Linked DNA regions of Homo sapiens. The protein of the gene in region 2 interacts with the protein of the main gene of each other region in a pairwise test. Each region holds a gene or a part of one and is shown on either strand. Other genes may lie near its edges.

Region 1 (3,658 bases), on a different chromosome or scaffold from region 2:
TATAAATATATAAATATATATAAATATATATAAATATATAAATATATATATAAATATATAAAAATATATATATAAATATATATAAATATATAAAATTTTTTTTTTGAGACGGATTCTCGCTCTGTCGCCCAGGCTGGAGTGCAATGGCGCAATCTCGGCTCACTGCAACCTCCGCCTCCAGGGTTCAAGCGATTCTCTTGCCTCAGCCTCCCAAGTAGCTGGGATTATAGACACCCGCCACCACGCCTGGCTAATTTCTGTATTTTTGTAGAGACAGGGTTTCACCATGTTGGCCGGGCTGGTCTCAAACTCCTGACTTCAGGTGATCCGTCCACCTGGGCCTCTCAAAGTGCTGGGATTACACGTGTGAGCCACCATGCCCAGCCAGTATTTTTATATACTAGTAATTAATATTCCAAAAATAAAATTAAGAAAACAATGTCATATACCATAGCACCCAAAAAACCCTTAGGTATAAATTTAACAAAAGTGTAAGAATTATACACTGAAAACTACAAAACATTCTCGAGAAAAATTAAAGAAATAATAAATAAATGGAAAGACATCTCATGTTCATGGATCTGAATACTTAATACTGTTAAGATTACAATATTGCCCAAATTGATCTACAGATTCAATGTGATCAATATCAAAATCCCAGCTGGCTTTGTTTGCAGAAATTGACAAGCTGACCTTAAAATGTAGAGGCATACCTCAGAGATACTGTGGGTTTGGTTCCAGACTACTCCAATAAAGTAAGTATCACAATAAAGCAAGTAACACAATTTTTTGGTTTCCCAGTGCATATAAAAGTTATGCTTACACTATACTGTAGTCTATTAAATGTATAATACCATTTTGTCTACAAAAAGTATAGACTTTAAGAATACTTTATTGCTAATAAATGCTTACACAGAGACATGAAGAGAGCATATGCTGTTGAAAAAATGGTGCCAACAGACTTGCTTTATGCAGGGTTTCCACAAACCTTCAATTTGTAGAAAATGTAATATCTGTGAATTATAACAAAGCAGAGTGCAGTAAAACAAAGTATGTTTGAATATGGAAATGCAAGGGACCCTGAACAGTCAAAACACTCCTGAAAAAGAACAAGGCTGGAGGACTCACACTTCCTGATTTCAAAACTAACAAAGCTATAGTAATTAAGACAGAATGGTACTAGCATGAGGATAGATATATAGAACAATGGAACAGTATTGAAAGTCCAGAAATAAATAAATAAATGCTTAATTACGGTCAACTGACTTTCTTTTTTTTTTTTTTGAGACAGAGTCTTGCTCTGTTGCCCAGGCTGGAGTACAGTGGCATGATCTCAGCTCACTGCAACCTACACCTCCCAGGTTCAAGGGATTCCTCTGCCTCAGCCTCCTGAGTAGCTGGGACTACAGGTGTGCACCACCACACCTGGCTAATTTTTGTATTTCTAGTAGAGACAGGGTTTCACCATATTGGCCAGGGTGATCTCGAACTCCTGACCTCAGGTGATCCACCCACCTCGGCCTCCCAAATGCTGGGATTACAGGCATGAGCCACAGCGCCCGGCCCTGACTTTCAATAAGTATGCCAAGACAATGAAATGGGAGAGAAAAGCCCTTTCAACAAATGGTGCTGGAACAACTAGATATCTGCATCCAAAACACTGTACTTGAAACCCTACCTCATACCATACACAGAAATTAACTCAAATGGATCATAGACCTAAATGTAAGACCTAACACTATAAGCCTCTTAGAGGATCTAAGAGAATGAAACATGCGTCCACAAAAGAAACTTGAATATGAATGTTCACAGCAGCATTATTCATAACACCCAAAAGTAGAAATAACCCAAATGTCCATCAAATAATGAATGGATAAATAAAATGTGGTATATTTATACAACAGAATATTATTTGGTCATAAAAAATGAATAAAGTATTGATACATGCTACAACATGGAAGACTGTTGAAAACACTATACTAGCTTTGGCAACACAGCAAGACCCATCCTTATGAAAAAATTTTAAAAAATTAGCCAGGTGTGCTAGCATGCAACTGAAGTCCTAGCAACTCAGGAGGCTCAAGCAGGAAGATTACTTGAACCCAAGAGGTCAAGGCTGTGAGCTATGATGGCACCACTGCACTCCAGTCTGATTGACAGAAGAAGGCCTTATCTCTAAAAAAAAAAAAAAACTAACAAAACACACACATGCACACACACACACACACACATATGAAGAAAGCAGTCACAAAAGGCCACATTATTCCAACATTATTTCATTTATAAACTTATATGAAAGGTCCAGAAAAGGCAAATCTAGATACAATACCAAAAGTAAAATAAACAAAAGAAAATACAATTAAATTGGGCTATATCACAACGGAAATCTTTTGTGCTATAAGTAATACCATCAAGAAAGTTTAAAAACAACTCAGAATAACAGAAAGCATCTTCAAATCATGAATCTCATGAGAAAGTGGTATTCATAATATATTAATATAAAGAACTCTTAAAACTCAGCCGGGCACAGTGGCTCACGCCTGTAATCCTAGCATTTTGGGAGGCTGAGGCGGGTGGATCACCTGAGGTCAGGAGTTCCAGACCAGCCTGGCCAAGATGGTAAAACCCCGTCTCTACTAAAAATACAAAAATTAGCTGGGCATGGTGGCACATGCCTATAGTCCCAGCTACTCGGGAGGCTGAAGCAGGACAATCACTTGAACCCAGGAGGCAGAGGCTGCAGTGAGCTAAGATCATGCCATTGCACTCCAGCCTGGGTGACAGACCCAGACTCTGTCTCAAAAAAAACTCTTAAAACTTAATTATTGGCTGGACATGGTGGCTCATGCCTGTAATCCAAGCACTTTGGGATGCCAAGGCAGGTGGATCACCTGAGGTTAGGAGTTCAAGACCAGCCTGGGCAACATGGTGACACCCCATCTCTACTAAAAATACAAAAATCAGCCGGGCATGGTGGCGGGTGCCTGTATTCCCAGCTATTCGGGAGGCTGAGGCATGAGAATCGCTTGAACCCAGGAGGCAGAGGTTGCAATGAGTCAAGTTCACGCCATTGCATTCCAGCCTGGATGACAGAGCGAGACTCCAACTCCAAAAAAAAAAAAAAAAAAAACAAAAACAAAACAAAAAAAAACTATATATATACACATATGTGTGTGTGTGTGTGTATGAAATATATATATTTCATATATATACGAAATATATACATATATATATATATGAAACAACCCCATTTTAAAATGGGGTAAAGGATTTGTATAGATATTTCTCCAAAGACATACAAATGGCCAATAAGCCCGTGAAAGGATGCTCAACATCATTAGTCATCAGAGAAATATGCAAATCAAAACTATAATGAAGTACCATTTCACACTCGTTAGGATGTCTATGATAAAAGAGACAGGAAATAACAAGTGTCGACAAGGATGTGGAGAGGCCGGGCATGGTGGCTCACACTTGTAATCCTAGCACTTTGGGAGGCTAAGTCGGGCAGACTGCTTGAGCCCAGGAGTTTGAGACCAGCCTAGGCAACATGGTGAAACCCCATCTCTACAAAAAACACAAAAATTAGCCAAGTAGGGTGGCATGCCGCTATAGTCCCAGCTATTCCAGAGGTTGAGGTGGGAGGATCGCTTGAGCC
Region 2 (3,658 bases):
AAATATCAAGGAGGGTCAGAGAGGTGGAGGAGGATCTGATTCTAAGGCATTCATTGTCATGAGAATTTTATAATAAAGGACTCTCAGGAATGCATCCTAATAGGACCTGTATTTCCAGGAGTAAAGTACTGCTGTATCTGTTAGCATTGCTTTGTCTTTGGAGTCACTTGGTATTGGTAGATCTCATTTTTTTTGAATGAGAAATAATTTTTCATTATACAGCTAAATGTTTTTGGTACAATGGGGGATTTTATATTATCTTTTTCCCATTACCCATACAGATAACTGTATAATACAATTATCACATCTGAATAGGGTTCTTTTGTCCACATTTATTTTATTTGCTCCTAGTAATCCCTCTAAGAGGTCTTCATGCAGGTTATTTTTAACCTCGGTTTACCTACGGAGAGATGAAATGGGGTGGTGTCAATATCTGAACACATGCATGTCAAGTAAGGTGTGGACACGTGGATTCAGGTGTCTCCTGTCCACTGGGCGGGCTACCGGGCTGGCTTCAGATGTGGGTTCATCTCACCTGGCTGCCTGACTTCTACAAACAAAGGCCTGTGAACGTGGTGGGCCCAGGACCTTTGATACCTTATCAGAATACGGCTCCTCCGTGAGATCGATGCCTTCAGCGTGCAGCTTGTTTTCAGTGAGCGTTTCTAGATCCACTCCCCGGGCACAGGAGACCTTCCTGGTCAAAGCCGGGCCCAGCTTCACACCGTGCTCCTGGAGGCTTGTGTTCTCGGGGAGCTCTGAGAGCCAGGGGGGCGGCCTTGTGCTTGGTGGGCTGCCAGGCGCCTGCCCTGAGAGAGGCCTGGGAGCCAGTGCTGGGGGACAGTCGCTAGGGCTGGTGGGGCTGGCGGGGCTGCCCCTTTTCACTGGCAGGCATGGCGCATCGGGACTGGGGAGGGCCCCACTGGGGCCCATGGGAACAGGGTGGAGTCCGTTAGCAAGGCGTTCTCTGCTCTTTTTGGCAGGAACAGGTGGAGGCTGTGATGGAATTTTGGGCTGCATTCTCTGCTCAGCATCTACCCCTTCTTTGGTGCCCAGGGGATGGTGTGTTCCTTCAAACTCGTGTCCTTTTCTGTGGCCCTCCAGAGGCGTCCTTGCTAAACCGTGTTTAGCTCCAGGAGGCTGAGCATCATAGTTTCTGGGCAAACACTGAGGGGGTGACAGGCCGCGACCAGAGGCTGCGATTGAGCCCTCCAGTTTCTTAGTTGTCAATTTCTGAGGTTCAGAAAATCTCTTGCTTTGGGTCAGTAGCAATGCATTGTCGACAGCAGAGTCTTGCTCCAGGGGCTGGGCCTTCGTGGAAGAGGCGGTCGTCTTCTGTGGCACTTCAGGTACAATCTGAGGGGGCGGTTCTGTCACCTCGGTAGGCACGTCTTGCTCAGCACCAGGCTCCACTTGAAGGTCATCCAGGGAATGGGATCGGGGCCAAGTGTCCACAGTCTGGGGGCCCTCCAGGGTCTCACAGCTCCGGCAGATGGAAACTGGGAGGCTTCTTCGGTTTTTATTCAAACCAGTCACACCAGGTGGGTCACAGCTCTTGGACGTGTCTGGGGCAAGGCCACCACCCAGCCTGCCCTCCTCCTGTCCCTGCTTCAGTGCATCCCCTGATTTCATTAAAGGCAATGTTGGGTAATTGCCCAACTGGTTTCTGCTAAAAGACTTCAAGCTGGGCTCGGTGGATGACTTGGCAGATAGGAGGCTAGCTTTCCGAGTCTTGCCTGTGAGACAAGGGAATATTTTACAATCACATTTTAAAAGCAAATCAATCAAACGGATGCATAAAGTTGTGCTAACATAATTGAAATCTCCAACACCCACATCCTATTGTTCAATTACACTAAAAACATAAAATCACCATTTATGACATCGGGTGATAGAGGGTTATTATGGTTCCATTTTTATTTTTAGAAAGAATTCTTAGTCTTATTAAAGGAATCATGAAGACTGAAATTAATTGGGTTACATGGGAAAGAAATACGCTGTGTCAAGCAGTAAAATAAATCTTGGCTTAAGTCTGTGCCCCACTGCAATCGACGTGGAAAGAGGCTGATCATCATACCGCATATTGATGAGATTTGTTGGGTGAGTACAATTTCTCAAGGTCATGATGGAAAAGGAGAGCTGGACTGAATTTCACAACAGGTTCTATAAATGGTATCCCCTACAGAGTGATCTGTGAATACTCAAATCCCACCTTCCCTGAAGCCCCTCCTTCTAGTAAGTTTATCCTAGAAGCAATCAACCAACCTGGACACAGACAGGTAAACTTTTGTGAGTACTTTGCCAAAGAAAATCTACAAAATACTGATAAAGTTTTAGGTCCCAGCAAAGCAACAGTCCTAGTTACAACTGCCAGACTGATAACTGAACTATCAACCAGACATAATCTACTTATCTGACGACTGGTAGTTGATACTAAACTGCTGCTGTTGGATAAGCTTTGCCAAGAACTTACAATTCATGGGCCAGACAATGTGCTGAATGCTTTGTTCTCATCAGTACTTACATGTGCGCGCGCACACACACACACACACACACACACACACTGTCCCTTGTTACATTTTTGGTTGATAACATGTTTGTTGTGTGCTTTGACCCTGTCCACCTGTATGTTCCACACTGATAAACACCAACATGCTATGCATTTGTAGGATATTATTGTTGTTACATAAAGATCATCAGCCTAGTGCTACTACTGAAGATATTGACCATGGTCCTACTTTTCATTATTAGAAAAATCATCACAACTTAAGGAGGCCAAGGCAGGTGGATCACGAGGTCAGGAGATCGAGACCATCCTGGCTAACACGGTGAAACCCCGTCTCTCATAAAAAATATAAAAAATTAGCCGGGCATGGTGGCAGGCGCCTGTAGTCCCAGCTACTCGGGAGGCTGAGGCGGGAGAATGGCATGAACCCGGGAGGTGGACCTTGCAGTGAGCCAAGATCGCGCCACTGCACTCCAGCCTGGGCGACAGAGCGAGACTCCGCCTCATAAAAAGAAAAGAAAAATCATCACAGATAAATGAAGAAATACCTCTTCAGAAAAAAAAAATTGCATCAGATTTTAAAAGTGGGTTGAAATAGAAAATTATTAGAACCTCTTTAGCATAAATTTAGAAATATGACTTTCTTTTCCCTTAACTCCCAATATAAAACTATATATATAAGTTCCATTTTTGCATTCTGCATTACATTAGAAAGATCCCTGAACTTACTTTGAGTTCAAAGTATGGTTCGCTAGCAATCTAGTTCTTCAGCAGGTACACCTGAATTCATTTGGGCATGAAAAATTCTGCCAGTGATATCTGTGAGATCCTTACCAATCACCAACAGTTGGGGGAATTAATTTCCTGAAAAGTTTTGGATATGAAAAGGTTATTAAGAGAAAAAAAAATTCTTCAGAACCTACATGAGCTACATAAGGATTCTGATGTTTACTGAAACTGAGGATGTACTGGGATACTAGGTGAGTTTTGCATCCTGTCTTGACCGAGGCTATCTGAATATTATATATAGTTTGGGGAGAACTACTATCTTCCCAAGTTGATAGAAAACCTTGAATAGCAGGGCATCATGGCTCAAATTCTGAGGTCCCCAAGATGCTTCTTAGAATTGGAATTAGAGTGAGGCAAACAAGG

Evidence for each region.
Region 1: the proteins of SASH1 (region 2) and KIF3B interact in a two-hybrid assay, tested with the Homo sapiens proteins (one large-scale study listed by BioGRID).

Annotation. Positions count from the first base shown.
Region 1 is NC_000020.11:32,319,055-32,322,712, reverse strand, and holds part of KIF3B (kinesin-like protein KIF3B), read right to left. Parts: intron 1-3,658. UniProt on the Homo sapiens protein: Microtubule-based molecular motor that transport intracellular cargos, such as vesicles, organelles and protein complexes. Uses ATP hydrolysis to generate force to bind and move along the microtubule. Plays a role in cilia formation.
Region 2 is NC_000006.12:148,541,758-148,545,415, reverse strand, and holds part of SASH1 (SAM and SH3 domain-containing protein 1), read right to left. Parts: intron 1,737-3,658; coding exon 598-1,736; intron 1-597. UniProt on the Homo sapiens protein: Is a positive regulator of NF-kappa-B signaling downstream of TLR4 activation. It acts as a scaffold molecule to assemble a molecular complex that includes TRAF6, MAP3K7, CHUK and IKBKB, thereby facilitating NF-kappa-B signaling activation.